Linked DNA regions of Homo sapiens. The protein of the gene in region 1 interacts with the protein of each later gene in a biochemical or structural test. Each region holds a gene or a part of one and is shown in the gene's direction. Other genes may lie near its edges.

Region 1 (7,480 bases):
ACCACCACCATGCCTGGATAATTTTTGTATTTTTAGTAGATATGGGGTTTCACCATGTTGGTATGGCTGGTTTTGAACTCCTGATCTCAAGTGATCCACCCGCCTCGGCCTCCCAAAGTGCTGGGATTACAGTCGTGAGCCACTGTGCCCAGACCCATTTCATTGCTTTTTATGGCCAAATAACGTTCTGCTGTATGGATATACCACCTTTTCTTTATCCATTCATCAGTTGATGGACATCTGGGTTCTTTCTACCTTTTAGCTATTGTGAGTAGTGCTGCTGTGAACATTTCTGTACCAGTTTTTGTTTGAACACCTGTTTTCAATTCTTCTGAGTATATACCTAAGAGTGAAATTGCCAGGTTATAGGATAATCCTATGCTCAATTTATTGAGGAACCAAATTGTTTTCCACAGAGATTGTACCACTTTACATTCCTTACACGGTAATGTATAAAGATCCCAATTTCTCCATGTTCTCATCAACACTCATTGTTTTTCATTTTTTGATAGTCATTCTAGTAGAAGTGAAGTGGTATCTCATTGTGGTTTTTTTCTTCTTCTTTTCTTTTCTTTCTTTCTTTTTTTTTTTTTTTTTTTTTTTTGAGACAGGGTCTCGCTCTGTCGCCTAGGCTGGAGTGCAGTGGCCCGATCTTGGCTCACTGAAGCCTCTGCCTCCCGGGTTCAAGCGATTCTTGTGCCTCAGTTTCCCGAGTAGCTGGAGCTACAGGCATGTACCACCATGCCCAGTTAAGTTTTGTATTTTTAGCAAAGATGGGGTTTCACCATGTTGCCCAGGCCGGTCTTGAACTCCTGACCTCAAGTGATCCACCCACCTCAGCCTCCCAAAGTGCTAGGATTACAGGTGTGAGCCACCATACCCAGATCATTGTGGGTTTCATTTGCATTTTCCTAATGATTAATAGTGTTGAGCATCTTTTCATTTGCTGGGTGGCTATTTGTCTATCTTCTTTGAAGAAATGTCTTTTTAAGTCTTTTGCTCATTTTGAAAGTTGGGTTGTCTTTTTGTTGTTGAATTGTAAGAGTTCGTTATATATTAAGGATACTCATCTGATATATAATCTGCAAATATTTTCTCCCATTCTGTGGGTTGTCTTCGCTCTCTTGACATTGTCTTTGATGCACAAAACTTTAAATTTTTGATGAAGTCCAATGTATCTGTTTTTCCTTTTGTTGTTTGTGCTTTTGGTATTACAGCTAAGAATCCATTACCAAGTCCAAGATTATGAAGATTTACCTATATACTTTCTTCTAAGAATTTATAGTTTTAGTAGTTATATTTAGGGCTTTGATCTCTTTTCAGTTAACCTTTGTATATGGTGTGAGGTGGGGAGGGGGTCCAACTTCATTCTTTTGCATGTTGAAAGCACCTTTTATTTTTTGAGAAAAAGTGGTGGCGTGTGCCACTACACCCGGCTAATTTTTGTATTTTTAGTAGAGACGGGGTTTCACTATGTTAGCCAGGCTGGTCTTGAACTCCTGACCTTGTGATCTGCCTGTCTCGGCCTCCCAAAGTGTTGGGATTACAGGCATGAGCCACGGTACCTGGCCTTTTTTTAAAGATGGAGTTTCAGCTGGGCATGTAATCCCAGCTCATGCCTGTAATCCCAGCACTTTGGGAGCCTGAGGCAGGTGGATCACTTGAGGTCAGGAGTTTGAGACCAGCCCGGCCAATGTGGTCAAACCCTCTCTCTACTAAAAATACAAAAACTAGTCGGGTGTGGTGGCGCATGCCTGTAGTCCCAGATACTTGGGCGCCTGAGGCCAGAGAATTGCTTGAATCTGGGAGGCAGAGGTTGCAGTGAGCTGAGATGGCGCGACTGCACTCCAGCCTGAGCAAGACTCCATCTCAAAAAAACAAAACAAAACAAAAAAGACAGAGTTTCACTCTGTTGTCCAGGCTGCAGGGCAGTGGCACAATTGCAGCTCACTGCAACCTCTGCCTCCTGGGATCATGTGATTCTCCTGCCTCAGCCTCCTGAGTAGCTGGGATTACAGGCGCCCACCACCACACCCAGCTAGTTTTTGTATTTTTAGTAGAGACGGGGTTTCACCATGTTGTCCAGGCTGGTCTCGAACTCCTGACCTCAAGTGATCCACCTGCCTCGGCCTCCCAAAGTGCTGGGATTACAGGCATGAGCCACTGTGCCCAGCCCCAGCCCCATTTTTTGAAGACAGTTTTTCTCATTGAATGGTTTGGCACCCTTGTTGGAAATCAATTGGCCACAGAAGCATAGTTTATTTCTGGACTCTTTCAATTCTATTCCACTGATGTATAATATATGTGTATCCTTATGCCAGTACCACACTGTCTTCTTTTTTTCTTTTTAAGAGACAGGGTTTCACTCTGTTGCCCAGGGCAAAGTACAGTGACACGATCATAGCTCACTGCAGCCTCAAACTACTGGGTTCAAGCTGTCTTCTCACCAGCACTGGGATTACACGCATGAGCCACTGCGACCAGCCAATGCTGTCTTGATCACTGTAGCTTTGCAGTATCTTTTTTACAAGATTATTTTGGCTATTTGGGGTTCCGAGCAATTCCATATAAATTTTAGGATCAGCTTTTCCATTTCTGCAAAAAAAAAAGGGCCAATGGGATTTAACTTTTTGACTTATGAAGCGTGGTAAATGAATTACCTGCTCATTTTAAAAAATTAATATGTTTTTTTAAAATCAGGAATTTGCTTGGCTTTCCTGAAGGTCACTCAAGGTATTACCCTGTCTCCAGGCTCTTTCTTCAATCTAGATTATCTTTGTGCAAAGTACAGAAAGTAGAAAATTTTTTTGCCAACACTGGCCTTTCTCCCCTTATCCCAGACCTGCAGAGAGTTCTTGTGGTCTAATCTTCATTCCTCTTGCTACCATGTCAACCAAGCAGAACTATTCTTCCTTGACTCTTTCACACACTCCCTCATCTGCTCCAGCTTTCTTTTCTTTAATTCCCAGTCACTGACCCTCTTCTCTTATTTAGAATCCAAGATTGTAAAAGCCGCCAAGTATGTCAGACTATTTATTCAACTTCTCCACTTTGCAGATGTGGAAACTAAAGCCCAGAGAGAAAGTCTGACTTGCCCCACAGCCAGTGAGTGACTGCAGCAGCACCAGAATCTGGTCTGTTTCCTGTTTGGCTCTTCTACCACTACGGCTTGGGATCTCGGTAAATAGAACTGGGTGCAGACTTTAGTGCTTTCAGGCTCAGTCCCCAAATCCTTTAGTAGGCCATTTTGCCCACCTTGGCCACATGAAGTCTGCACACAGGAAGGACAGATCTTCTCTGAGGCCCCTATTTTTTTTTTTTTTAAGACAGATTCTTGCTTTGTCACCCAGGCTGGTGTGCAGTGGTGTGATCTCGGCTCACTACAACCTCCGCCTCCCTGGTTCAAGCAATTCTCTTGCCTCAGCTTCCTGAGTAACTGGGATTACAGGTGCACGCCACCATGCCTGACTAATTTTTGTATTTTTAGTAGAGATGGGGTTTCGCCATGTTGACTAGGCTGGTTTCGAATTCCTGAGCTCAGGTGATCCACCCACCTTGGCTTCCTAAAGTGCTGAGATAACAGGCATGAGCCACCACGTCCGGAGGCCCCTACCTTTGCGTGATACCTGCTCCTTCCCATTATTTTGAAGAAACTGCTGAATCCACAGGGGAAGTGAAACTATGAGGGGAGATAAAGTGTTGGGGCAGAGTTTTGAGAGTGATAACCACAAGCTAAGTTTAGAGGACTGAGAGTTTGAGAGTCCTCCCTGAGGACCCACATGTCCCCCTTTATATCCTATTACAGGGCATGGTGGCTTTGCCAATGGTCCTTGTTTTGCTGCTGGTCCTGAGCAGAGGTGAGAGTGAATTGGACGCCAAGATCCCATCCACAGGGGATGCCACAGAATGGCGGAATCCTCACCTGTCCATGCTGGGGTCCTGCCAGCCAGCCCCCTCCTGCCAGAAGTGCATCCTCTCACACCCCAGCTGTGCATGGTGCAAGCAACTGGTAAAGATGGGCCTATGGTCTTTGAACCATGTGTATGTGTATGTGTATGTGTATATGTATGTGCAGCCTGGATATATGTGTGTGATTGTGTGGGCACATGTATGATTTTCTGGGAACACTCCACAGTCTCATGTGTGACTGAGTTTGTGCACATAGGACTCCTGTGTGTGGATATACGTGTGTGCATACACATGCATGCAAGTTTCTTGTGCACTTAGGATTATGTCTGTATCCATTTGCTTGTGTATATATGGAGAGAATTTGTGACCATGAATTGGGAGAAAGTATGTGCTTGTGGGAATTCATGCTTGTGTATAGGTAGAGGGAGCTGTTGTGTATGTAAACATGGGAGAAAGGTACTACCCAGTGCGGGCTGCCATAACAAAATACCATAAGCTGGGTGGTTTAAGCAACAGGAATTCATTTCTCCTAATGTTGGAAGCTGGGAAGTCCAAGATCAAAGTGCTGGCTGATTTGGTTCCTCAGTTAGGGCCCTCTTCCTTGCTTGCAGACTGGCTACCTTCTCGCTGTGTCCTCACATAGTGGGGATGGGGTTGGGGGATGGGGGTGGGAACTGCCTCTCTTCTTGTAAGCGCACTAATTCCATCATGAGGGTTCCACCCTTAGGCCCTCATCTAAGCCTAGGTACCTCCCAAAGGCTCCATCTCCAAATACCATCACATGGAGGGTTAGGGCTTCAACAGAGGATGGGGTGGGGGTGGGGAGGGGTAGGGGTGCAGAGTTCAGTCCATAGCAGCAAGTGTGTGGTTAGATTTCTAAGTCTGTGTTTTGGGTGGAGGCATTCTGTTCCTGGGTGTGTAGTAGCCTATGACTGGACAGGTAGAAAGGGAAGGGGTGGAAGCATATGGGCTTGAGGGGGACTGGAAAGGCTTGAGCTACCTAAGTGGCCAAGAAGGATGCTAGGGAGCAGGTGTCTCCCTGGCTCTTCAAACAAAGCTGTTGTTTGTTTATGCTTTAAAGAGACAGAACTCATGGAGCAGCAGAGCAGGAGGGGTGCCCAAGCTGGGATGGGGGCAGGTCTGCCTCTCTCAGTGTAAGATGGAGGGTTAGATCAGTGTGGGAGCCCAGATAAGAGATGGGGGCAAATTCACATGGAAGCAGAGCTACAGATGCTTAGAGGACCCAGGAGAAAGGCACACAGGGACCCAGGAGAAAGGCACACAGTGAATCTGACTGGACAAGAAGGGTAGATACTGAGTCTGCACAAGGCAGAGAGGCAGAGGTGCCAGGCTGGAGCTGGGGAGCTGGCGCTCTTGAGATGGTCAGGTCTGTGTCTGGCTTCTCCAGTCTCCTGACACCTAGGGCCAGCTGAGAAGCCGCTCTAACCATTTCCTTCCCCTGTGGCTTCCCAACCAGTCCCAGGGATACCAGACATATTGGTGGGGAGGACGCCTCCTCTTCTGTTCTTATCCTTTCCTTTCCAAGGAGCTGTGGGTCTTAGTCTGACCACCTTCCCATTTTGGTGTGAGCTTGCTGGGGAGGTTGGCCTAGGAGGCAAGGCCCCTGTTTTTTTGTGGTAGTGAAGTCTCTAAGATCTCAACAGGAAGTCTGTGACTCTATTGGGGAGGAGAGGGGTAGGTGGCTGGGGCAAGGGGGAGTTGAGATAGGGGAGGGGTGGGGGACTGCTATAGGAAGTGGGGCTCTGACAAGGAAGAAAGGACCAGAGTTCCACCGGTGGCGGTTCATGCCTGTAATCCCAGTACTTTGGGAGGCTGGGGCAGGAGGATTTCTTGGGGCCAGGAGTTCGAAACAAGACTGGGCAAAAAAGCAAGACCCTGTCTTTACAGTAGGAAAAAAAAAAAAGGCGTGGTGGTTCACGTCTGTAATCCCAGCACTTTGGGAGGCTGAGGTGGGCGCACTTGAGGTCAAAAGTTTGAGACCAGCCTGACCTATATGGGGAAATCCCGTCTCTACTAAAAATACAAAAAACCTGGGCGTGGTGGCACATGCCTGTAGTCCCAGCTACCGGGAGGCTGAGGTACGAGAATCACTTGAACCCGGGAGGTGGAGGTTGCAGTGAGCGGAGATAGCACCGCAGCACTCCAGCCTGGGTGACAGAGTGAGACTCCGTCTCAAAAACAAAACAAAACAACAAAAAAGACCGGAGTTCAAGGGTAGCTGTGGCGAGGAAGAGGGGAGGGAATCAGGGACTCAAGGAGTGGACTGGAGGTGGGGGCATTAGAGGTGGCCGGGTTTGCAGGGTGTTTTTGGGAGCGGGGCCCAGGGCCTATGCAGGACCGGGTCCCGACGCGCCTTTTCTTGCTGAGCAGAACTTCACCGCGTCGGGAGAGGCGGAGGCGCGGCGCTGCGCCCGACGAGAGGAGCTGCTGGCTCGAGGCTGCCCGCTGGAGGAGCTGGAGGAGCCCCGCGGCCAGCAGGAGGTGCTGCAGGACCAGCCGCTCAGCCAGGGCGCCCGCGGAGAGGGTGCCACCCAGCTGGCGCCGCAGCGGGTCCGGGTCACGCTGCGGCCTGGTGAGTTAGGGGAGGCGGGGCCAGGCCAGAGGTCTAGGCTGGCGTTCCAATGCGCTCTGCTGACCCGCCCGCCGCCCACCCCCTAGGGGAGCCCCAGCAGCTCCAGGTCCGCTTCCTTCGTGCTGAGGGATACCCGGTGGACCTGTACTACCTTATGGACCTGAGCTACTCCATGAAGGACGACCTGGAACGCGTGCGCCAGCTCGGGCACGCTCTGCTGGTCCGGCTGCAGGAAGTCACCCATTCTGTGCGCATTGGTGAGCCGAGCGCTGCCTCCCGCCCTGTTAGCCCTTGCCTATTCAACCACTGCCCTAGCCTCTGCCAACATCCTGGACTCACAAGGGCCCCAACTTGCCCTCCCAGTTGTTGACAGGCCTAGCCAGGCCACAGGTTCGTTCCTGCATCTCTCCCTAGACACCCATCTTCTAGGTCAGAGCTGGAGAGGACTCAAGAGACTATCCGTTTTACAGGCCTGAGACCCAGCGTCTGGAGAGACTGTGCTCAGGCACTCTCTGGGCCTGGACAGCTGCCCTGGGCCTACCAACCTGGAACCTGCCCTGATGCAAGTCTCCCTGGACAAGACCTAGATGCCACTGTCCCTGGCTCCACATTCTGTGCCAACTCTCCTCTATTCAAATTTCCTTCCTTTGCCTCATGCTGCTACCATATCCTATACCCGGGCCTTCTTCCGCCTTCTGGAAGTTCCCATTTGCCCAGGAAGTTGTGTCCTCCTCTTAATGTCTTCTACCTGCCACTTCCCTGAGCCAGTGGTCTCACTGCTTTGCTTGCCAGTTACCAGGTCCCTGCCCCCTAGGTGCACCCTCTCCCATCACCGTCCTCCCCACCCCACTTCCCATAGAGCGCTCTCATGGGTCCTCTGTTGCTGCCCTGCGACTTCTGGCACAACCTTCATTCCTCTCCTCTCCCAGGTTTTGGTTCCTTTGTGGACAAAACGGTGCTGCCCTTTGTGAGCACAGT
Region 2 (7,480 bases), on another chromosome or scaffold:
ATTGAGACCGACTCTAATAGCACTATATTTTGAGTATCCTTTGTCTGAAATGCTTGGGACCAGAAGTGTTTCAGATTTCAGATGTTTTTGGATTTTGGAATATGCATATAATTACCTGCTGAGCACCCCAAATCCAATAATTCAAAAACTGAAATGCCCCAAATAGTACTTCTTTTAAGTGTCATGTAGGTACTCAAAAGGTTTTGAAATTTGAAGCATTTCATGTTTCAGATTTTTGAATTTAGGATGCTCAACCTGTACCTAAAAATCTTGGTGTTTCTGACAGAGTTCTAGTGTGGGATTTCTGGTTTTCATGGGCATTTCTTTTAGGGTATGGCATATTGTCTCATTAATACTTAATTTTAGACCTTAAATGTTACTTGCAGATTTTTACTTGCTAATCGTATCAACAAAATATCAAAGTGAAAGTAATCACTTCCTTATTCATTGTTTCTTTCAGATTCTGAAGCTTCAAGTCCTTTCACACCAGTGGCCGATGAGGACAGCGTAGTTTTCAGTAAACTGACTTACTTAGGCTGTGCCTCGGTAAATGCTCCCAGGAGTGAAGTGGAAGCCTTAAGGATGATGTCCATCTTAAGAAGCCAGTGTCAGATTTCACTAGATGTTACCCTTTCAGTGCCGAATGTGTCTGAAGGAATTGTGAGGTGAGACTGGTTTGTTGAAATCTTTCGATATTTACATCAGATCTCTGACCTGTTGCTTCAGAAAGAAGCAATAGTGAATAAAATACATATTAATAGTTATTTTACTTGTGTAACGTTTCATTTACCTGGCACTCATGTCTCCCAAGGACTGTGACCTTTGTGAAAAATGGTTACTTATTTGTAATAGTTTTTCGTACTCTTCCCGATCATGTGTAGTACATTAGGCATTTAATGTTTTGGGGATAAATGAAATATATTGACATGAGTCAGCCTAAAAGATTATATTTTCCATGTTCCTTTGATGAAAATACAAGCTTGACACATTATTTCAAAATGGAGTTTCATGTTGAGTTTGAAAGTTACAAAAATTTATTATTAAATATTAACTATACCAGCACACCCCTTAATTTTTATGATGAGAAAACTGGCTAGGTGCAGTGGTTCATGCCTGTAATCCCAGCATTTTGGGAGGCTGAGACGGGTTGATCACTTAAGTTCAGGGGTTCGAGACCAGCCTGGGCAGCCTGGGCAACATGGTGAAACCCTGTCTGTACAAAACATACAAAAATTAGCCACGCATGGTCATACACACCTATAGTCCCAGCTACTCAGGAGGCTGAAATGGGAGGATCACCTGAGCCTGGGAGTTCAAGGCTTCAGTGAGCTGTGATCATGCCACTTCACTCCAGACTGAGTGACAAAGTGAGACCCTGTCTCAACAAAGCAAAATGAAAAAAAAAGATGAGAAAACTGAGGCACAGAGAAGCCTCTAGCTGTTTATACTAATAGAACAAATAACAATTGCAGATAGCTAATCAGATGTCTGTATCAACCAGCTAAATATACTGTTGCTCAATAAGTCAGATGAATGCAGGTAAAATAAATTTTTTTTCCCTATTACCAAAGATACATGCTTATTTAAAAAAATTGCCACATAAAAATAGCCTTAATTCTACTCTACCACTAATAAATACAGTTAACATCTTGGCTTATTAAGATCTTCTTTGCATATTGGTATATGTATATGTCTAGGTATATGTAAATATACCTGCATATATATACATACATAATTTACAACTGTTAGAATCAACTTTTTTTTTTAACAGCAATGGACCTGTACATACCATCTTGTACTTAGTTTTATATCGTAAACCTCTTTTCATGCCAGTAAATATTATTAAAAATTTTAATTTATGATGGCATATGAATGGGTTATAAATAAATAACCCATCTCTTATATTAGACATTTTAAGGCTTTTATCTTTCAGAGAAAAAAGCATGAATGATGATAGCTAGTTTTAATTATATGGGAATATCAGTGTTTTATAAATAGGTATCTTTGAGCTCAATCTTTTTAGACTTCTGTTGATTTCCTTAGGATAAATTCCTAGAAGTAAACTTATTGAGTTTGTCTATTTTTATTGCTTCTAATAACATTGCCAACTAGCCATCTAGAAATATTGATCTAGTTTATACTTTTATCAGCAGTATATAGAATATCCATTTCTCAGTATCCTCAGAAGTATTTTGGACTTTCATGGTGACAGAGTAATAGCTGTGTGTTGATTGTAGTAAAATAATCTGTATATGTAATTTTTCCCCTTAAGTATTTAAATAACTATTTTGCAAAGACTCACAAATTCTATTTATTAATGATAAACTATTAATAAAATGTGTTTAGCACTCATTTCTATATGTTTCTTAGTCAATACTCATTCCTCTAACTGAAGTTAGACTTTAATATATTTTTAATTCTATAAAAGAAGTTAGAAAGCTAGTCGGTTTTACCCCACATTTTTAGAGTTTTCATAAAAGTGCTTTCAAACCTGTGTTAGATCCTCTTCCTAGGTATTTCCGTGATGAGCAAGGCCTTCTAGGCTTTCCCATTAATGGCTCTACCCACATAGTGTTGAAATTGCATAGTTTCTTTTTAGACCTTCCATAGTTGTGCCTTACTGCCCTGATCAGAGTCTGGAATGTTGTAGGTATCACATAAATATTTGTTGAATAAGTAGATTTTTGAATGAATGCTATCCCTTTGATTTTTTACTGAATGGCATCCTTTTGCTTTTATTCATGATTTTTTTTTTTTTGAGGAGTTAACATTTTGTATAATTTCTGTCCTTATTTTCCATGAATCAAAAAAAAACTTGTTTCAGTCTGAGAAAAAGCATCAGTTTTTTGTTTTTTATTTTTTCATAACAGATTAGGTCATTTTTAAAGGAGATAATTAGAAGCACAGCTTTGCCCAGGTGTGGTGGCTTATGCCTGTAATCCCAGCACTTTGGGAGGCCTAGGTGGGCGGATCACCTGAGGTCGGAAGATTGAGACCATTCTGGCTAACCTGCCCTGTCTCTACTAAAAATACAAAAAATTAGCCGGGCATGGTGGCACATCCCTGTAATCCCAGCTACTTGGGAGGCTGAGGCAGGAGAATCACTTGAACCCAGGAGGCGGAGGTTGCGGTGAGCTGAGATTGCGCCATTGCACTCCAGCCTGGGCAACAAGAGCGAAACTTGTCTCAAAAAAAAAAAAAAAAAAGCACAGCTTCAATGATGTATTTTGGTAGTCTAATTTACGTATTAATCGTCTTTATTTTGTAGCAGACTGTATAAGAAATGTGCTTATTGATATTGTTTATACCTTTCTGTTTGCCTCCCTAAAACATGATACTATATGGTTTTTAGTACTATGGAATTACGTAATCAATAGCTTCCGGAATTCACATATGAGTTACTTATTAAAATTTAAGGTTAATATCAGCATACCAAATATATGATCTTCTTACTAGAAAGAATGAGTCTCACATCTTAATCTAAACGTAGTGCAGATTGTTCATAATTCCTGTAATCTCTCTGTATCTTTTTCTCTGAACAGACTCTTAGATCCTCAGACAAACACTGAAATAGCAAACTACCCTATCTACAAAATCCTCTTCTGTGTCAGAGGGCATGATGGAACTCCTGAGAGTGACTGTTTTGCTTTCACTGAAAGTCATTACAATGCAGAGCTCTTCAGAATACACGTCTTCCGGTGTGAAATACAAGAAGCTGTAAGTCCTCAAGAGAAAACTCTCTGCAAATGAAACTTCACCAGTGCCCTCACTAGGTTGAAATGATTATGGTATTTATTATGATCACTCATAAGCCAGATGAAATTCTCTGCTATTGTTTTAGTGATTCTAGCCTCATGGGCCAAAATATAAATTAACTAAAAATTTGATTAACTAGAACTTTGTTACTACTACTAAGAATGTCAGAGGAGATCTGTTGGCTACTTTTGATTGGGTTAAGTAGGCATTCTGGTTCTAACATTGACAGATTTGCAAACCATTCTTTTAAATCAAAACTTGTTAGGACTGTTTTCATTGTAATATCTTCAGATAGTTTCTAACAATTTAGGAAGTGATTTTTAAATTGGATTTATAGTGCTTACAACCATTTCTTTTTTAAAACCCCTTGTCTGGACATTTTTAGTGTTGCTTGCTTTATAGGCCTAACAAATTAGGTAATTTACCAAAAGAAATAAGTGGGATAAAGATAATTATTGCCCTCCAAAGTAGGTAATCTTCCAGCCTTAATAAAGGTATTTTATATCTTTTGATAACAGCCCATTTCCTAACATGTCTGGTTGTAGGTAAGCCGGATACTTTACAGTTTTGCCACTGCCTTCCGCCGTTCTGCCAAGCAGACCCCACTTTCAGCCACTGCTGCACCCCAGACTCCTGACAGTGACATCTTTACCTTCTCTGTGTCTTTAGAAATAAAAGAAGATGATGGTAAAGGTTATTTTAGGTAGGGAATCTTATTTTATTCATGTATTAACATGCTGTGGTTCAGGGGAAATTCTAGGTCAGATTATAACTTTCATACCATAAAATGATGGCTTTTAAAGGGAGGGCTTTTAAAAAAAATCTGGATGATAAAGGCATATAAATACATAAATTTAACAGAGGCAAAGTTTGAAGAATTTTAAAGCAATTAAAAAAATTGTCATATTGGGAACATGTTGCTACCTTCTTTTAGTCAGATACCAAGTGGCTAACTGCTCACAAAAATATGGCCAAACCGCCAGGCGCTGTGGCTCACACCTGTAATCCCAGCTCTTTGGGTGGCTGAGGCGGACGGATCACCTGAGGTCGGGAGTTCGAGATGAGCCTGACCAACATGGAGAAACCTTGTCTCTACTAAAAATACAAAATTAGCCGGGCGTGGTGGTGGGTGCCTGTAATCCCAGCTACTTGGGAGGCTGAGGCAGGAGAATCGCTTGAACCCGGCAGGCAGAGGTTGCAGTGAGCCGAGATCCTGCCACTGCACTCCAGCCTGGGCAACGAGAACGAAACTCCGTCTCAAAAAAAAAAAAAAAAAAAAAAAAAAAATATATATATATATATATATATATATATATATATATATATGGCCAAAGCTTAGTCAGCTGGATTTGTAGCTATATTTGTTTTGCTGATTGTATTTGCTTGTTTTAGTTGGTTGATTTACTTATATTAATAATCTAAAAATCTTAAGCCTTTTCAAGTCAAGTTTTCCCAGTAAAGTTATCTGCATACATTGGAAGGGGAGAAATAAGGTCTGTGTCTGAAGTCTAATCTTTTGTAGGGTTAGAAGTGACTGATTTTAATTTTTAAATATAATGATAATCCTTTGAGTGGTGGAAAGAACCATGGAATAGAAGTCAAAACTTAGCTTTAGTTTAATTATTGTTACTATTAACAGTGTCCCCATTTCCAAGTTTCTTTACATCTGTCAGTAGTTTCCTCATTTATTAAATGAGGTGGCTAGACTCTAAAACCCTTTCTCACTTTAAAATTTTATGGTTGCAAGATGACTTGATGTTTTTAAAATTACAGCCCATGTCCCAAAATGATTGTATTATAATCAGTAATTGCATGTAGAAGTCTGTTTCCTCCATGACTACCTCATTAAATTGGTAAAATGAAGTTATATAAAAATATGAATATTTCTAATATTTTGCTTTTAAATTAAGCACAGTGATTGGTTTATTAGATTATTAGAAAAACTGATAATTTTTAGTCTTTCTTCAGACTTTGGAATTGTCATGCCATCTGGTGGCCAATTTAGTGTACAGTGCAGCTTAAACTTTGAGGAGTAAAGTATGACTCATTGTGCTCTATGCTTTCTAATTAGATAGATTTCTATTCTCTCTCTCTCTTTTTTTTTTTTTTTTGAGATACGCCTCACGCTGTTGCTCAGGCTTGAATGCAATGGTACAAACATGACTCACTGCAGCCTCAGCCTTCTGGTCTCAAGCAGTCCTCCCACCTCGCCCTCCTGAGTAGCTGGGACCACGGATGCATGCCACTATGTCTGGCTAATTTTTTTTTAAGTTTTTCTAGAGATGGGGTCTTGCCACATTGCCCAGGTTGGTCTTGAACTCGTGGTCTCAAGTGATAGTCTCAGCTTGTCAAAGTGTTGGGATTACAGGCATGAGCCAACCATTCCTGACTATTTCTATTCTCAAAGCAATGCTGTGAGGTAGTCCTTCCTGCAATGTACCTTCCTGCCCTGCAAAGTGAAAATTATAATCTGTATAATTTTAAGTAGTTTTTTACCTTGTTAAGCAACCTTTAAACTAAATATATTTTCTTTCTTTTTTTTTTGAGACAGAGCCTTGCTCTGTCACCAAGGCTGGAATGTAGTGGCACGATCACGGTTCACCGCAACCTCTGTCTCCCAGGTTCAAGCAATTCTCATGCCTCAGCCTCCTGAGTAGCTGGGATTACAAGCATCTGCCACCATACCGGGCTAATTTTTTCTATTTTTCAGTAGAGACAGGGTTTCGCCGTGTTGGCCAGGCTGGTCTCAAACTCCCGGCCTCAAGTGATCCATTTACCTGGGCCTCCCAGAGTGCTGGGATTATAGGCATGATTCACCATGCCTGGCCTTTTTTTCTTTATTGAAAATATTTATGTAGTTTTGGTCTGTAAATTCTAATTATTAAATAGGAAAGATTAAGATCCCTCAGAAGTATCAGTATAACTTCCCTTCCTTCTGAAATCAGGCATATTCAAGGTAGAATGATCATAAACATCTCTGTTCTATTTGTTAATACTGACAAAGTGCTATTACAGAAAATCCCTGGATGGTCAGATTTGCTTTTCACATTTGTTAGGACTTTGTTCTCCTTTTGCTACATGGCTTTGCTGAATTTCTGGTTTATAATAAATACTGTTATGTTAACTTAAATATATTATTTAAGTATAATGATCAATATACCTAAATATATTAGGTTAATATATATTATTTAGGTATAATAATAATTATATATTATACATATAAATTATGTAATAGTTATATACCTATTATTATATAAAACCTATTATATACTTACTATTATACCTAAATATTTATTTTATCTAAATATTATACCTAAATAATTATTATACCAAAATAATTATTATACCTAAATATATTAGGTTAACACAACAGTACTTTAGATGTATGAAATCCTAGCAAAATATACCTTGGTTTGTCAGATTTAAACTTGTCAAAGGTAGTTCCTCTTATCCAGTAATTCTGTAATATGTATGGAAATTTATCTGCAGAAATAATCATTGAGGTTTTCAAAGAATTATTATTATGAATGTTCTCCAACATACTGTGTATAATATTAATAGCAAATTTTAAAAGTAGAAATTAAGTGTTGAATAGAGTACTAAAACATGTTGGTTTATGGATATTACTTATCCCCTGTCCAACTCATATTTGTGTATAACACAAGATTTACTGTGGTTTTACTTTAACATAAATATAGACAAAGTATGATGAGAATAATTAATG
Region 3 (8,264 bases), on another chromosome or scaffold:
TAGCCACCTAGACCCTCGGGAGAGGCCTGTGCGGCTCCTGGCTGGGCCCCCGTCTTCAAAGCAGCTTTTGAGTGGCCCTTTGACCCGTGAGACAGGGCCGTGGAAGCTGGGGTGAGCCTGGAGATGCCCCCGGGAGCACCAAGGCGTCAGAGCAGCTGACCAGGGCCCCAGGCCTCGCCGCTTCCCCAGGCAGAGCCGGCCCCAAGCCCCGCCTCTCCCCTGGGCGGAGCCAGCCCCAAGCCCCCCTCCCCTGGGCGGAGACAGCCCCAGGCCCCGCCTCTCCCCTGGGCGGAGCCAGCCCCAAGCCCCCCCTCCCCTGGGAGGAGACAGCCCCAGGCACCGCCTCTCTCCTGGGCGGAGCCAGCCCCAAGCCCCCCCCTCCCCTGGGCGGAGACAGCCCCAGGCACCGCCTCTCCCCTGGGCGGAGCCAGCCCCAAGCCCCCCCTCCCCTGGGAGGAGACAGCCCCAGGCACCGCCTCTCCCCTGGGCGGAGCCAGCCCCAAGCCCCCCCTCCCCTGGGAGGAGACAGCCCCAGGCACCGCCTCTCTCCTGGGCGGAGCCAGCCCCAAGCCCCCCCCTCCCCTGGGCGGAGACAGCCCCAGGCACCGCCTCTCCCCTGGGCGGAGCCAGCCCCAAGCCCCCCCTCCCCTGGGAGGAGACAGCCCCAGGCACCGCCTCTCCCCTGGGCGGAGCCAGCCCCAAGCCCCGCCTCTCCTCTGGGCGGAGCCAGCCCCAAGCCCCCCTCCCCTGGGCGGAGCCAGCCCCAGGCCCCGCCTCTCCCTGGGCGGAGCCAGCCCCAAGCCCCCCCTCCCCTGGGCGGAGCCAGCCCCAAGCCGGCTCTCACCATAGTGTGCCTCCTGCCCCATGGACCCCCATCCCCCCAGACCCCTCCTGATTAGCTCAGGTGGGGCTGCCGTGGAGACCACACCAGCATCATCGCCTGAGGCTCCATGTCCAATTTCCCCGGGGCTGCTGGAGACTGAGCACTGCCCCAGCCCCTCACCAGGCGGTCACTGACCCCAGGGAGGCCTGTCAGCTCTGCCCAGGCTCAGCGACGTGGTCAGCTCGGCCAGCCTGCGGGGAGGGACTCGACTCGGACAAGGGTTCCTTCAGGGACCTGTGCCAGGTGGGCCACGAAGATCCTTCCTTCCTCCTTTTTTTTTTTTTTTTTTTTTTTTTTTGAGACAGTCTTGCTCTGTCGCCCAGGCTGGAGTGCAATGGTGCGATCTCGGCTCACTGCAAGCTCCGCCTCTCCGGGTTCACGCCATTCTCCTGCCTCAGCCTCCTGAGTAGCTGGAACTACAGGCGCCCGCCACCACGCCCGGCTAATTTTTTTCGTATTTTTAGTAGAGACGGGGTTTCACCGTGTTAGCCAGGATGGTCTCGATCTCCTGACCTCGTGATCCGCCCGCCTCGGCCTCCCAAAGTGCTCGGATTACAGGCGCCCGCCACCACGCCTGGCTAATCTTTTTTGTATTTTTAGTAGAGACGGGGTTTCACCGTGTTAGCCAGGATGGTCTCCATCTCCTGACCTCGTGATCCACCCGCCTGGGCCTCCCAAAGTGCTGGGATTACAGGCGTGAGCCACCGCGCCCGGTCGATCCTTCCTCCTTAAACCTGATGCGGGAGCCAGGCCCACCCCCATCGTGGGCTTCATGGCTACAACTCCACACGTACACACGCACACACGCATGCACGCACACAGACGCATGCACACACACACATGCATGCACATGGCTACTTATTGAACCCCCTCCTGCAGCCTCCATCAATCTCATTCCTCCCCCACTCTCCTTGCGACCCTCAGGTCTGGGGTCCTTGGACTGGGTTCAAGCCTTGTCCAACAAGGAGGCCCTGCCGTGATGGGGGTCCTCACTCCAAAGAAAAAGCCATGAGGACCCCAGAACTGACCAGTGGGTGGGAGACAGGAGAGCTGGCCCAGCTGGGTCAAGAAGGGTCTGTCAGGGCCTGGGGCGTGCTCCGCTCCTGGACAACGGCGCCCTCACAGCCCCTTCCCCTCAGGGCAACACAGTCATCTGGAACGCTCCCTCGGCAGCTGTGGACAGGGAGGCCAGGATGTGGGGTCTGGGGCTGGTGGGATGGCTGGGACCCTCCATGGGAAGGGGGGCTTCCTGGCTGGGACCCTCCATGGGAAGGGGGCTTCCTGACGGAGGCCGCCGAGGACAATGCCGGGAAGGGGATTGATGTTGGGGGCGGGGTCGAGTCTCCCAAGGACAAAAAGGAGGTCCCCGTTGCCGGCGGAAGATACGGTGTAGGCCTTCCTGTGGGACTAGGACTCAGACCCAGGGGTCTCAGGGTCCTCCCCGGCCCTCAGGCTGCTGGCCCACCTCGGTCTCTCCATCCCTCTGCCTCTGCCTCTCTGTGTCTCTGTCTCTGTCTCCCTGTGTCTCTCTGCCTTCTCTCTTCCTCGCTCTGTCTCTGTCTCTCTGTGTCTCTATCTCCCTGTGTCTCTCTGCCTTGTCTCTCTTCCTTGATCTGTCTCTCCCTCTCTGTGTCTCTGTCTCCCTATGTCTCTCTTCCTCACTCTGTCTCTGTCTCTCTGTGTCTCTGTCTCTCTCTCTCTGTCTCTGTGTCTCCCTCACCCCCGCCTTCCCCACCTCTGGCCGTTGAAACCTGCGGGTCCCTCTGCCTCTGGGAACCCTCCCTCCTCCTTCCTGTGTCCATCCCACCTGCCCTGTCCTCAGGGGGACCCCAGCTTTGTTGTCTCCCCGCCCCCACAAGCCTGTGGATGTGAGGGCTCGGCACACGGGGACTGTGAGCAGCGTGATCACCACGCGTGACCCAGCGGGCGGGCGGGGGACAGGGCCCTGGAGAGCTGGGACACACCCTGCAAGGGGCCTCAGCCCTCCTGGCGCCCAGTGGTCCCTCCCCACCTGCAGGAAGTAGGGTCGGGGGCTGGGAAACAGCCCATTCACCAGGCCTGCTGCCCCCCGCCCGGGTTAAGGGCCCAGCTTCCCGGGAAGGGCCTGCACCTCCGGCCTGGGGAGGGCCCCTCCTCGGAGTCTGCTTTCCGGTGAGGCCTTTCCCGGCACCAGCCTGGGCAGGAGGGGGATGGGACCCAGGGAGACAGGGCTGTGAGCTCACACACCTGGGCCCTCACCTCTGAGGGGACTGTTTCCCCACCCCGGGCCTCAGTTTCCCTCCTCTAGGCCTCAGTTTCTCTCCTTTGCACCCAGCCCCTCCTCTAGGCCTCAGTTTCCCTCCTCAGCACCCAGCCCCTCCCCCGAGCCTCATTTTGCCTCCTCTGCACCCAGCCCCTCCCCTAGGCCTCAGTTTCCCTCCTTTGCACCCAGGCCCTGCCCTGGATCTCAGTTTCCCTCCTCTGGTCCCAGCCCCACCCCTGGGCCTCAGTTTCCCTCCTCTGATCCCAGCCCCTCCTCTGGGCCTCAGTTTCCCTCCTCTGGTCCCAGCCCCGCCCCTGGGCCTCAGTTTCCCTCCTCTGATCCCAGCCCCTCCTCTGGGCCTCAGTTTTCCTCCTCTGGTCCCAGCCCCGCCCCTGGGCCTCAGTTTCCCTCCTCTGGTCCCAGCCCTGCCCCTGGGCCTCAGTTTCCCTCCTCTGACAGGTAAGCCGATTGGCAATGCTTGGAACCCCATGGACTGGCTGCTGCTTTTTATTCCATGGCCAGGGAAACTGAGGCACAGACAGACCCTGAGGTCAGCAGGAATGCTCCATCATTTTATTCCCGCGTGCCTGCGGTGCATGGGGTCCAGGGTCACAGGACCGGCCCCTGGGTGGAGGGGAGCCAGCCATCACGACTGCCACCACAGGCCCTCATTGAGCTAGGAGCAGAGCACCCTGGGAACCACAGCGGAGGAGGGTGGGGGGCGAGGGGGTGAGGGGGTGGGCAGAACCTGGGTAAGGTGAGGAGCAGCCCGGGCAGAGTCCCAGAGGCCCTGGGAGGGTCCCGGTGATGCAGGGGGGTAAACAAGCCACCAGCGGAGACAGAACCAGTGTGCGGGGCTTGGAGGAACAGGTGGGTGGATTCCAGTGCGTTTGGAAGATGAGGTTCCCAGGACTCGCTGATGGCAGCTGTGAGTGGGAGTCCAGCCAGCATCCCTTCCAGATCCCTCTTGTGGACCGAGATCCAGGTCTCAGTGTAGACCAAGGAACAGAGGCAGCCCCTACTCGGGCTCCCAGGCTCCAGCCAGGCCTGCTAGGTGGGCGGCCTCTGCCCGTGTGATGGAAGGAAGCCAGGCTCAGAGATGGGGTGACTTGTCCCACGTCCTGGAGGGTCTCACAGCTCCACCACGGCCAGGAGACTTCAGTCCAGGGGGCCTCCATCCCCAGCGACCTTCACCTGACCCCCAGGGGACCCCAGCCAACAAGACCCGGCCTGCAGCTCCGGAACGGGGGAGGGCTGCTCTCCACCGCCCCTGTGCGGCCGCCCGGGAAAGTGCAGGCGGGCCGGGCGCGGTGGCTCACGCCTGTGATCTCAGCACTTTGGGAGGCCGAGGTGGGCGGATCACCTGAGGTCGGGAGTTCGAGGCCAGCCTGCCCAACATGGAGAAACCCTGTCTCTACTAAAGATACAAAATTAGCCAGGCGTGGTGACGCATGCCTGTAATCCCAGCTACTGGAGTGGCTGAGGCAGGAGAATCGCTTGAGCCCGGGAGACAGAGGTTGCGGTGAGCTGAGATCGCACCATTGCACTCCAGCCTGGGCAACAAGAGCGAAACTCAGAAAAAAAAGAAAAGAAAGTGCAGGGGACCCGCCGTCGGGGTGGGGGCGGCGCTGCCCAGCCTCTGTCCCACTTCCATGCACTTGACCTCGACCCTCCGGCCTCCGTCTGCGATCTTCCCGTGCCTGAATATGAGGCTTGGAACAGACCCAGACCTTCCTGCCTGCCCGTCCTGAGTGGCCCCGGGACCCCGCCCCATCTTTGGCCCCCAGCCCCTGCCTCTCTGCCGCCTCCAGGGTCGGGGGTCAGGCCAGGAAAGCCCCTTGGGAAGCCCCCGGGGAGCAGCTGGAGCGGGGTCGCCGGGCGGCGGGAAGGAGTGGGCGCCTCTATTTAAGCGGCTTCCCCGCGGCCTCGGGACAGAGGGGACTGAGCATGGATTTCGGACTGGCCCTCCTGCTGGCGGGGCTTCTGGGGCTCCTCCTCGGTGAGAAGGGGAGGGGGCGCGGGAGAGAGGAGTGAGTTAGGAGGGGGCTCAGGAGAGAGGAGGGGGCTCAGGAGAGGGGAGGGGGCTCAGGAGAGAGGAGAGGGCCCGGGAGAGAGGAGGGGGCCCAGGAGAGGGGAGGGGGCTCAGTAGAGTGGGGGGGCTCAGGAGAGAGGAGGGACGCAGGAGAGAGGAGGGGCGCAGGAGAGAGGAGGGGGCTCAGGAGAGTGGAGGGGGCTCAGGAGAGAGGAGGGGCGCAGGAGAGAGGAGGGGGCGCGGGAGAGAGGAGGGGGCGCGGAGGGGAGGGGGCGCAGGAGAGAGGAGGGGGCGCAGGAGAGTGGAGGGGGCGCGGGAGAGAGGAGGGGGCGCGGGAGAGGGGAGGGGGCTCGGGGGAGAGGAAGGGGCGCGGTGAGCGGGGAGGGGACGCGGGAGAGAGGAGGGAGTTAGGAGGGGGCTCAGGAGAGGGGAGGGGGCTCAGTAGAGTGGGGGGGCTCAGGAGAGAGGAGGGACGCAGGAGAGAGGAGGGGCGCAGGGGAGAGGAGGGGGCGCAGGAGAGTGGAGGGGGCTCAGGAGAGAGAAGGGGCTCAGGAGAGAGAAGGGGCGCAGGAGAGAGGAGGGGCGCGGAGGGGAGGGGGCGCAGGAGAGAGCAGGGGGCGCAGTAAAGTGAAGAGGACTCAGGAGAGAGGAGGGGGCGCGGGAGAGGGGAGGGGGTTTGGAAGAGAAGGGGGGCTCGGGAGAGGGGAGGGGGCTCGGGAGAGGGGAGGGGGTTCGGAAGAGAAGGGGGGCCCGGGAGAGGGGAGGGGGCCCGGGGGAGAGGAAGGGGCGCGGTGAGCGGGGAGGGGACGCGGGAGAGAGGAGGGAGTTAAGAGGGGGCGCAGGAGAGAGGAGGGGCTCGGAGGGGGCGCGGGAGAGACGAGGGGTGCTCAGAGTTAAGGGGCTCCGAGATAGGGGGTGATTGGTGATCCTGCCAGAGGAGGGGGCTCGGAGGAGGCAGGGGCTGAGAGGGGAAGTTGCGGGGCTCCGCGCGGCCCCCTGACCCGCAGCGAAACTGGCTCCAGGCAGCTGGGGTTCGGGGGACTGGGGCAGAGGCGGCGGTCGGGGCGGGGTTCAGGGACCGAGCCTGGGAGTCCGGGTAGCGGCGGGGCAGGGGTCCGGGGGTGCAGCGGAGGGTCCGGGAACCGGGCAGAGGCGGGGCGGGGTCCGGGGGTGGAGCGGGACGCAGGGCCGGTGGCGGGGCGGGGTCCGGGACTCCGCGGGGCTGAGCGAGAGCCGCGGTCGCCGCAGGCCAGTCCCTCCAGGTGAAGCCCCTGCAGGTGGAGCCCCCGGAGCCGGTGGTGGCCGTGGCCTTGGGCGCCTCGCGCCAGCTCACCTGCCGCCTGGCCTGCGCGGACCGCGGGGCCTCGGTGCAGTGGCGGGGCCTGGACACCAGCCTGGGCGCGGTGCAGTCGGACACGGGCCGCAGCGTCCTCACCGTGCGCAACGCCTCGCTGTCGGCGGCCGGGACCCGCGTGTGCGTGGGCTCCTGCGGGGGCCGCACCTTCCAGCACACCGTGCAGCTCCTTGTGTACGGTGAGGCGTCCCCCCGCGCCCTGCCTCTCTGACCCTTGGACTCCCGGCTCCTTCCCTATGCCACCTCTTCCTGGAAGCCTCCCAGATTGCAGGCAGGGTCCCAGCTCCATGCACAGCTCCCCGAAGCCAGGTCCCCGGCCTTCGCTTCCCTCCAACTCACCCCAACTCTCCCAGGGCCGGCCCTGGCCCATCCTCCTGTCTATTCCAGCCTCCCAGGGTGGGGCCACGGGGCCTGCGCACAGGCCGTCCCTACTGCCTGTTCATCAGCAGCCCCCACGCATCCTTGGCCCCAGCTCCAAGCCCCTCCGGGCTCCGGCCCCTCCATCACGTCCAGCCCTGACTCTGGGCTCAGCCCTCACCCCCGACCCTCCATCACAGCCTTCCCGGACCAGCTGACCGTCTCCCCAGCAGCCCTGGTGCCTGGTGACCCGGAGGTGGCCTGTACGGCCCACAAAGTCACGCCCGTGGACCCCAACGCGCTCTCCTTCTCCCTGCTCGTCGGGGGCCAGGAACTGGAGGGGGCGCAAGCCCTGGGCCCGGAGGTGCAGGAGGAGGAGGAGGAGCCCCAGGGGGACGAGGACGTGCTGTTCAGGGTGACAGAGCGCTGGCGGCTGCCGCCCCTGGGGACCCCTGTCCCGCCCGCCCTCTACTGCCAGGCCACGATGAGGCTGCCTGGCTTGGAGCTCAGCCACCGCCAGGCCATCCCCGGTGAGTCCGCTGGGTGCCCTGGAGACCCACCCGCTCGCCAGCCTTGACAAGCACTTCGGGACGGGGTGGGGGGGTGGGGGGGCAGCACCTGTGCTGTGGGGCGCTGGGAGGACTGGATTCCCCCACGCAGCGACAGCGACATTCATCGACGCAACATGTATTTGCCGAGCACCTGCCCCCCAGCACAGGTCCCACCCCTCCCCTGCCCACAGCGCTCCATGGCTCTTGCCTTGGGGTCAAAGCCCAAGTCCTCCCGGGGGCCCACAGGAACCTGCACGACCTACCCTGTCCCCTTCCTGTCCTCCCTCCACCCTTTCTCCCCCTCCTCATTCTGCTGCAGCCACACGGGCCTCCTCGCCTCCTCGCTGTTCCTCCAACACACCAGGCGTGATCCTGCCCCGGGGCCTTTGCACGGCTGTGCCCTCTGCCGGGAATACCCTTCTTCCGGATCTTTCCACGGCTCTCTCCTCCTCCCCCTCAGGTCTCTGTAGAATGTTGCCTCCTCCGTGAGGCTTCCCTGGATTCCCGTTTAAAGGGTCAACCCCTGATCCCCAACGTGTACAAACATAGGCACACAAGCACACACATGTACAAACACAGACACACACACGCGTGCACACAGGCACACACGCACACGCGTGTACAAACAGGCACACAAGCACACACGGGAACAAACGCACACACCCACACGCGTGTACAAACACAGGCACACAGGCACACGCGTGTACAAACACGCACACGCGTGTGAGCCCCCTTTCCCTTCTGTTTCGTTTCTTGACACCTTGGATAACATCTGACATCCCCCAGTCCCGTACATTCTCTTTTCCATGACCTTCTCCCACTGTGGCTCCCCAGGTGGGAATCTT
Region 4 (7,480 bases), on another chromosome or scaffold:
GACCTTCATGAGTCAGCTCCTCTCAAAGGTGATTGCCTTTTGGTGGGGCTAGTTAGAGATGACTTCAGGAAAATACATGAATTTTAAACTGAGTCTAGAGGAGTGAGAGAGGAGCTTCTTTAGGATCCACAGGAGAGCTGGGTGATGACTGTCTTTCCACCTCTCCCTCAGGGAGCAGCTGCCCACCCTGACAGTGAGGAGCAGCAGCAGCGGCTGCGGGAGGCAGCTGAGGGGCTGCGCATGGCCACCAATGCAGCTGCGCAGAATGCCATCAAGAAAAAGCTGGTGCAGCGCCTGGAGGTGAGGCTGGGAGTTTCACCAGGAGCAAGAGAGAGTGTGGGTGCTGTGGGAGGAATGAACTGAAAGGGAGGTGCGGAGAGTAAGTTAATACGTCCTTGAGGCATAACCTGGGCAAGGTAGGCCAGGGACTGGGCTGGGCATGGGAATCCATGGGCTTGGTCTGACTACTCTTGTCTTCACAGCATGCAGCCAAGCAGGCTGCAGCCTCAGCCACACAGACCATCGCTGCAGCTCAGCACGCAGCCTCTACCCCCAAGGCCTCTGCCGGCCCCCAGCCCCTGCTGGTGCAGAGCTGCAAGGTAAGACTCTAGGAAGGATGTGGGAGTGGAAGAGGGAGACTTGTGGGTCTCTTATGACATTTTCACCTACAGGCAGTGGCAGAGCAGATTCCACTGCTGGTGCAGGGCGTCCGAGGAAGCCAAGCCCAGCCTGACAGCCCCAGCGCTCAGCTTGCCCTCATTGCTGCCAGCCAGAGCTTCCTGCAGGCAAGGCACCCCCTCTGCACTTCTCTGACCTGACCTTCCCACCTTTCTAAGCTTCCATCTCCCACAGTTTGAATCTCTGCCAAGAGCCTCTTTCCCAATACCAAGCCCCAGTGTTCCCTACATCCTGACCATCATCAGTCCTTGTACCCAAGCCCAGAGGGAGGATGGCACACTTCATCCACCTGCCTATTCCCCAACAGCCAGGTGGGAAGATGGTGGCAGCTGCAAAGGCCTCAGTGCCAACGATTCAGGACCAGGCTTCAGCCATGCAGCTGAGTCAGTGTGCCAAGAACCTGGGCACCGCGCTGGCTGAACTCCGGACGGCTGCCCAGAAGGTATGGAAGCTGGTTCTGGCTTTGGAAGATGAGGCTGGAGTCCTGTGATGAGAGGAAATCTGTGCAGAATAACCCAATACGCAGATAATTGTGTAATCAGAGGCATTGGTGAGACACAGCAGGACCTTCTACACCCAAAACCCCTTTCTTATCATAGGCTCAGGAAGCATGTGGACCTTTGGAGATGGATTCTGCACTGAGTGTGGTACAGAATCTAGAGAAAGATCTACAGGAAGTGAAGGCAGCAGCTCGAGATGGCAAGCTTAAACCCTTACCTGGGGAGACAGTAAGTATGTTTAAGACCTCATTCTTACTCAAATCCTAAAGTCTTCCTTCACCTCCGTGCCCCAGAGCTGCTCAAAACCTTTCCTTCCTTCCTTTTTCTTTTTTCTCTTTCTCTCTTTTATTTTTCTTTTCTTTCTTCTTCCTTCCTTTTTTCTTTCTCTTTCTCTCTCCTTCCTTCTTTCTTCCTTCCTTTCTTTTCTTCCTTTCCTCTCCTCTTTCTTTTCTTTTCTCTTTTCTTTTCTTTTCCGTTCTTTTATTTCTTTTTCTTTCTTGATGGAGTCTCGCTCTGTCACCTAAACTGTAGTGCAGTTGTGCAATCTCAGCTCACTGCAACCTCTGCCTCCTGGGTTCAAGCCATTCTCCTGCCTCAGCCTCCTGAGTAGCTGGGATTACAGGCATGCACCACCACGCCTGGCTAATTTTTGTATTTTTAGTAGAGATGGGGTTTCGCCATGTTGCCCAGGCTGGTCTTGAACTCCTGACCTCAGGTGATCCACCTGCCTCAGCCTCCCAACGTGCTAGGATTATAGGTGGGAGCCATCGCACCCAGCCCAAAACATTTATTTAAATTGCCACCTGTCCCCAAGTACCTTCTCAGGTTCCTTCTCCTCACCTTCTCCTTTCTCAAGCCCAATTCTTCCCCCTTCATCCTTAGATGGAGAAGTGTACCCAGGACCTGGGCAACAGCACCAAAGCCGTGAGCTCAGCCATCGCCCAGCTACTGGGAGAGGTTGCCCAGGGCAATGAGAATTATGCAGGTATGTGGGCAGAGAGCCAGGCATGGGGCATATTGTGAGGGAGGTAGGAAAATGGGAGCTGGATGAGGGATGGGACTGACAGACGAAACCACTGGAATCAGGGCCTGGCAATGAAAGCACCTTCCCTTCCCTCTTTCTCCTCATCTCCCAAGGTATTGCAGCTCGGGATGTGGCAGGTGGGCTGCGGTCACTGGCCCAGGCCGCTAGGGGAGTCGCTGCACTGACGTCAGATCCTGCAGTGCAGGCCATTGTACTTGATACGGCCAGTGATGTGCTGGACAAGGCCAGCAGCCTCATTGAGGAGGCGAAAAAGGCAGCTGGCCATCCAGGGGACCCTGAGAGCCAGCAGCGGCTTGCCCAGGTCAGATACTGGGAAAGGGCCACTCCCTCTCCCCCAGGTTCCTTCATAAGGCCCACCCTGATTGAGGCCAAAGCTTCTGAGCCTCGTCCACACTCACAGAGTGATGTCTTCTTGGGTCTGCTCTTGACAGCCCCTCTGTGGATTCCACCCTTATGTTCTCTTAGTCTTTTTTTTTTTTTTTTTTTTGAGACAGAGTTTTGCTCTTACTGCCCAGGCTGGAGTGCAATGGCGCAATTTCGGCTCAGTGCAGTCTCCGCCTCCTGGGTTCAAGTGATTCTCCTGCCTCAGACTCCCTAGTAGCTGGGACTACAGGCATGCGCCACCACACCCAGCTAATTTTTGAATTTTGTTTTAGTAGAGACAGGGCTTCACCATGTTGGCCAGGATGGTCTCGATCTCTTGACCTCGTGATCTGCCCCCCTCGGCCTCCCATAGTGCTGGGATTACAGGCGTGAGCCACTGTGCCCGGCCCTCTTGGTCTTGTAGAAGTGTCTCAGTTGGATTCAGTCATGGGCTGAGCTAAACACCAAGTTTGGGGAAGTTTAATTACTGTCACTTGAAACCCTAACCTCAGCCTGTTCACCTACAACGCCCCCTTTCTTTTTTCACTTTCAGAGGCAGTAGAGCTAGTCATCTCCCATGTCGCGTGAATGGAGGCGATCTCTCAAATTCTTTTCACTTGGGCAACCCTGTCTCCTTTCTCACCCCAGGTGGCTAAAGCAGTGACCCAGGCTCTGAACCGCTGTGTCAGCTGCCTACCTGGCCAGCGCGATGTGGATAATGCCCTGAGGGCAGTTGGAGATGCCAGCAAGCGACTCCTGAGTGACTCGGTAGGAGGACGGTAGGGGGTGGGGGAACGTAGGAGTCAAAGAATGCCAGGCCTCTCCTTCCTCCCTCTCGGTTGTCCTTTGACCCTGACTTCCCAGATCTGTCCCCTTTCATTACTCCCAGGCTATGTGCCCACCTTTTCAGCCCTCCTTTACCAGACTTCTCCCTGCATCATTCCCCACTCTTCTGTCTGACTTCCCCTCTCACCTTGCAGCTTCCTCCTAGCACTGGGACATTTCAAGAAGCTCAGAGCCGGTTGAATGAAGCTGCTGCTGGGCTGAATCAGGCAGCCACAGAACTGGTGCAGGCCTCTCGGGGAACCCCTCAGGACCTGGCTCGAGCCTCAGGCCGATTTGGACAGGACTTCAGCACCTTCCTGGAAGCTGGTGTGGAGATGGCAGGCCAGGCTCCGGTATGAAGAGGCAGAGGGTCTGGTTGAATGGTTCCCACTAAGGGTTAGATAGGAGGCAGTTGAGTGACCAGTCCTGACTTGCTCCTGGCTCCCTTCCCTCCCCAGTCTCTAGCACTACTTGAGTGTCTGGGAAAGAAGATCCCTTTTAGAGACAGATAAGAAAGGACAGGACAATGCATTGACCTTGTCACCTTCAACAGAGCCAGGAGGACCGAGCCCAAGTTGTGTCCAACTTGAAGGGCATCTCCATGTCTTCAAGCAAACTTCTTCTGGCTGCCAAGGCCCTGTCCACGGACCCTGCTGCCCCTAACCTCAAGAGTCAGCTGGCTGCAGCTGCCAGGTAAGTAGTTGCTGAGAAGCCCAGCCCTGGACTGTGTGAGAGAGACTGGGGAGCAGGCAGTTCATGAGAGCTTCTTGGCTTAGGAATGGTTATAGGCAAAAGATAAATACTTACATAGGACCCAGGAATGATGACCTATTCACCTTTTCACTCAACTTTCTGTCACTCCCAGGGCAGTAACTGACAGCATCAATCAGCTCATCACTATGTGCACCCAGCAGGCACCCGGCCAGAAGGAGTGTGATAACGCCCTGCGGGAATTGGAGGTAGACACATGGCAGGCTGATGGCATTGAGGTTGAGGGAAGTGTTCTGGTTTTGGGCCTGAGGGAGGTGTCTTGGATCTCACTTTGCCCTCCCCCTACACAGACGGTCCGGGAACTCCTGGAGAACCCAGTCCAGCCCATCAATGACATGTCCTACTTTGGTTGCCTGGACAGTGTAATGGAGAACTCAAAGGTCAGCACAGCCAGGAACTCGGAGGAGAGAGGGCAGTAGGATGGAGCTAACCAGATGCTGCCCTGGGGTTCTGAGGACATGCTCTGACTCCCCTGATGTCCTCTGTTCCTCAGGTGCTGGGCGAGGCCATGACTGGCATCTCCCAAAATGCCAAGAACGGAAACCTGCCAGAGTTTGGAGATGCCATTTCCACAGCCTCAAAGGCACTTTGTGGCTTCACCGAGGCAGCTGCACAGGTTATTTTCCTGAGATGGGTTCTTTGAATGGCCCCTACTTTCTTTACCCCATTTTCTCTCAGCCTGACATACCTGTAGATAAATCAAGAAGTTTATGTTTGCAAAGCCAACTCTATGGAATCTGGGTTGTCCTCCTCCTGAAGTGGAGACACTTGTCAGCAATTACTGAACACCAGCAGTTCTGATTTCTGTAATTCCTGAACCCTGGTACTTTGGTTAGGATTACACTGCCCAACCGTGAGGCCTTTTCCAGCTGGCTTTCTCAAAATATACTAATTAGCTTATACAAACTATTTTTTCATGTTATTACTACTTTCTTTTTTTTTTTTTTTTTTTTTGAGACAGCGTTTCGCTCTGTCGCCCAGGCTGAAGTGCAATGGCGTGATCTAGGCTCACTGCAAGCTCCGCCTCCCGGGTTCACGCTAGTCTCCTGCCTCAGCCTTCCAAGTAGCTGGGACTACAGGCGCTCACCACCACACCCGGCTAATTTTTTGTATTTTTTTTTTTTTTTTTAGTAAAGACAGGGTTTCACCATGTTAGCCAGGATGGTCTCGATATCCTGACTCGTGATCCACCTGCCTCGGCCTCCCAAAGTGCTGGAATTACAGGCGTGAGCCACCGCGCCTGGCCTGTAATCACTACTTTCTTTTTTTTTTTTTTTTTTTTTTTTTTTTGAGACCGAGTTTCGCTCTGTCGCCCAGGCTGGAGTGCAGTGGCGCGATCTAGACTCACTGCAAGCTCCGCCTCCCGGGTTCACGCCATTCTCCTGCCTCAGCCTCCCGTGTAGCTGGGACTACAGGCGCGCGCCACCATGCCCGGCTAATTTTTGTATTTTTAGTAGAGACGGGGTTTCACCGTGTTAGCCAGGATGGTCTCGATCTCCTGACCTCGTGATCCGCCCGTCTCGACCTCCCAAAGTGCTGGGATTACAGGCGTGAGCCACCGCGCCCGGCCAATCACTACTTTCTTAAAATAGTACTAGTGACAAAATTTCCAGTTACTTGAGTTATCACTTAACTTTGCCTTTTCCCACATTATCAAGTATAAAACTACCTATTAGCTGTAAAGTATTTTGCTTTAGTATATGAATCCTTAAAACAAACTGGCATCATAAGAGTTCACTTCAGACTATTTTCCCTGAAAGCCTACCATCCTAGCCCTCCATCTCCACCACCTCCCTGTGCCCTGTCAGAATAGGCGCCTTGCTCTAGATGGCTTGTTTGATTTTGTTTTTTTGTTTTTTTGGTTTTTTGTTTGTTTGTTTTTTGAGACGGAGTCTCGCTCTGTCGCCAGGCTGGAGTGCAGAGGCATAATCTCGGCTCACTGCAACCTCCGCCTCCCGGGTTCAAGTGATTCTCCTACCTCAGCCTCCCGAGTAGCTGGGACTACAGGCGCCTGCCACCACACCCGTCTGATTTTTGTATTTTTAGTAGAGACAGGGTTTCACTAAACCTCTTTGTTGTTTGTTTGGTTTTTTTCCCCCCACCTTCTGAAAATGCATAGAGGAAAAAGCAAAGCTACTGTGTATTGATTGAAGTATGAATCAAACATTAGGATGTTCTTTCCATCATAAAAATGGCTTTTTAACCCCTCCCTTCCTTTCCAAATATCTGACGCATGGAGGTGCTATAAATGTGAATTAGCCTAATAACCTTCATCAGTTTTGAACTGTCTTTAAAAGAGGCTTTGCTTGTGTGCACAAAGGTGTGTATTTATATATGGCTCTCAAACGTTTTACTGCTACTTACAGTAAGCCATACTTTTCACTCTAAGACCCAACATACACAAACATATCTAAATAGAGATTGGATAAAAACCCTTGCTATGTAGTTTTCCTTTTTATTAACTTTTTTAATCTTCTGAAATGCTTGAATATACTTAATGAAAACAGGAGAGTATTTTTTTTCTTCTTTATAGTGTAACCATTGTTTGCTAATGTATCTCCACTCATGGAGAACTCTGGAAAATAAGCCCTATTCTCTAAACTTACCTCTGCTCTCTTTTGTCCCTACTATCACTATTCATTTCCCACCTGCAATCTTTATTCCTCACCCCCACCCCCTTTTCTCTTCCCAGGCTGCATATCTGGTTGGTGTCTCTGACCCCAATAGCCAAGCTGGACAGCAAGGGCTAGTGGAGCCCACACAGTTTGCCCGTGCAAACCAGGCAATTCAGATGGCCTGCCAGAGTTTGGGAGAGCCTGGCTGTACCCAGGCCCAGGTAACTCAAGGGAACAGGGACCACAGGCGAGTCTGGGAAAGGGCAGACCGACCCCGTGGAGTAGAGGGAGGTGAGGCATGTGGGAAAGAGGGCAGGGACCCATCTCTGACCTTGCACACACAGCTTCTTTTTGGGTAACTGTCTTTTTCTGCCATGGGTCTCATCATTTATCAGTTACTGCTAAATTCACAACTTCTCTGTAGATGTTCGAGCTTACTCTCCCACATGCCCTCTTATGGTTTCTCCATTAGTATGTCTTTCCTCTCCCATGCCCAGTTCATCTTTGGGTATCTCTGTCTCCTAGATCTTGACTTTTCAGGTGACTCTGTTATTCCTGTTTTGACTCCTCAGGGTATTGCTCTCCATCCCCTGACCCTAAAATGGCTCCTCCTTGGGTATGTACACCTCCTTCCTGCCCTCATCGTGGCTCTTCCATGTGTCTCCTCAGGTGCTCTCTGCAGC

Evidence for each region.
Region 2: the proteins of ITGB7 (region 1) and RABGAP1 form a complex in vitro, tested with the Homo sapiens proteins (one study listed by IntAct).
Region 3: the proteins of ITGB7 (region 1) and MADCAM1 form a complex in vitro, tested with the Homo sapiens proteins (one study listed by BioGRID).
Region 4: the proteins of ITGB7 (region 1) and TLN1 form a complex in vitro, tested with the Homo sapiens proteins (one study listed by BioGRID).

Annotation. Positions count from the first base shown.
Region 1 is NC_000012.12:53,196,772-53,204,251, reverse strand, and holds part of ITGB7 (integrin beta-7 isoform a precursor), read left to right. Parts: intron 1-3,057; 5' UTR 3,058-3,180; intron 3,181-3,798; exon of another isoform or gene 3,799-3,805; 5' UTR 3,806-3,808; coding exon 3,809-4,009; intron 4,010-6,300; coding exon 6,301-6,502; intron 6,503-6,588; coding exon 6,589-6,759; intron 6,760-7,431; coding exon 7,432-7,480. UniProt on the Homo sapiens protein: Integrin ITGA4/ITGB7 (alpha-4/beta-7) (Peyer patches-specific homing receptor LPAM-1) is an adhesion molecule that mediates lymphocyte migration and homing to gut-associated lymphoid tissue (GALT).
Region 2 is NC_000009.12:122,985,755-122,993,234, forward strand, and holds part of RABGAP1 (rab GTPase-activating protein 1), read left to right. Parts: intron 1-460; coding exon 461-665; intron 666-3,542; coding exon 3,543-3,717; intron 3,718-4,301; coding exon 4,302-4,459; intron 4,460-7,480. UniProt on the Homo sapiens protein: May act as a GTPase-activating protein of RAB6A. May play a role in microtubule nucleation by centrosome. May participate in a RAB6A-mediated pathway involved in the metaphase-anaphase transition.
Region 3 is NC_000019.10:491,428-499,691, forward strand, and holds the start of MADCAM1 (mucosal addressin cell adhesion molecule 1 isoform a precursor), read left to right. Parts: upstream 1-5,058; 5' UTR 5,059-5,072; coding exon 5,073-5,124; intron 5,125-6,405; coding exon 6,406-6,690; intron 6,691-7,068; coding exon 7,069-7,398; intron 7,399-8,264. UniProt on the Homo sapiens protein: Cell adhesion leukocyte receptor expressed by mucosal venules, helps to direct lymphocyte traffic into mucosal tissues including the Peyer patches and the intestinal lamina propria.
Region 4 is NC_000009.12:35,707,879-35,715,358, reverse strand, and holds part of TLN1 (talin-1), read left to right. Parts: intron 1-171; coding exon 172-300; intron 301-482; coding exon 483-599; intron 600-671; coding exon 672-785; intron 786-985; coding exon 986-1,120; intron 1,121-1,277; coding exon 1,278-1,406; intron 1,407-2,060; coding exon 2,061-2,163; intron 2,164-2,315; coding exon 2,316-2,524; intron 2,525-3,234; coding exon 3,235-3,354; intron 3,355-3,566; coding exon 3,567-3,764; intron 3,765-3,964; coding exon 3,965-4,104; intron 4,105-4,276; coding exon 4,277-4,370; intron 4,371-4,472; coding exon 4,473-4,562; intron 4,563-4,617; exon of another isoform or gene 4,618-4,675; coding exon 4,676-4,798; intron 4,799-6,874; coding exon 6,875-7,018; intron 7,019-7,466; coding exon 7,467-7,480. UniProt on the Homo sapiens protein: High molecular weight cytoskeletal protein concentrated at regions of cell-matrix and cell-cell contacts. Involved in connections of major cytoskeletal structures to the plasma membrane.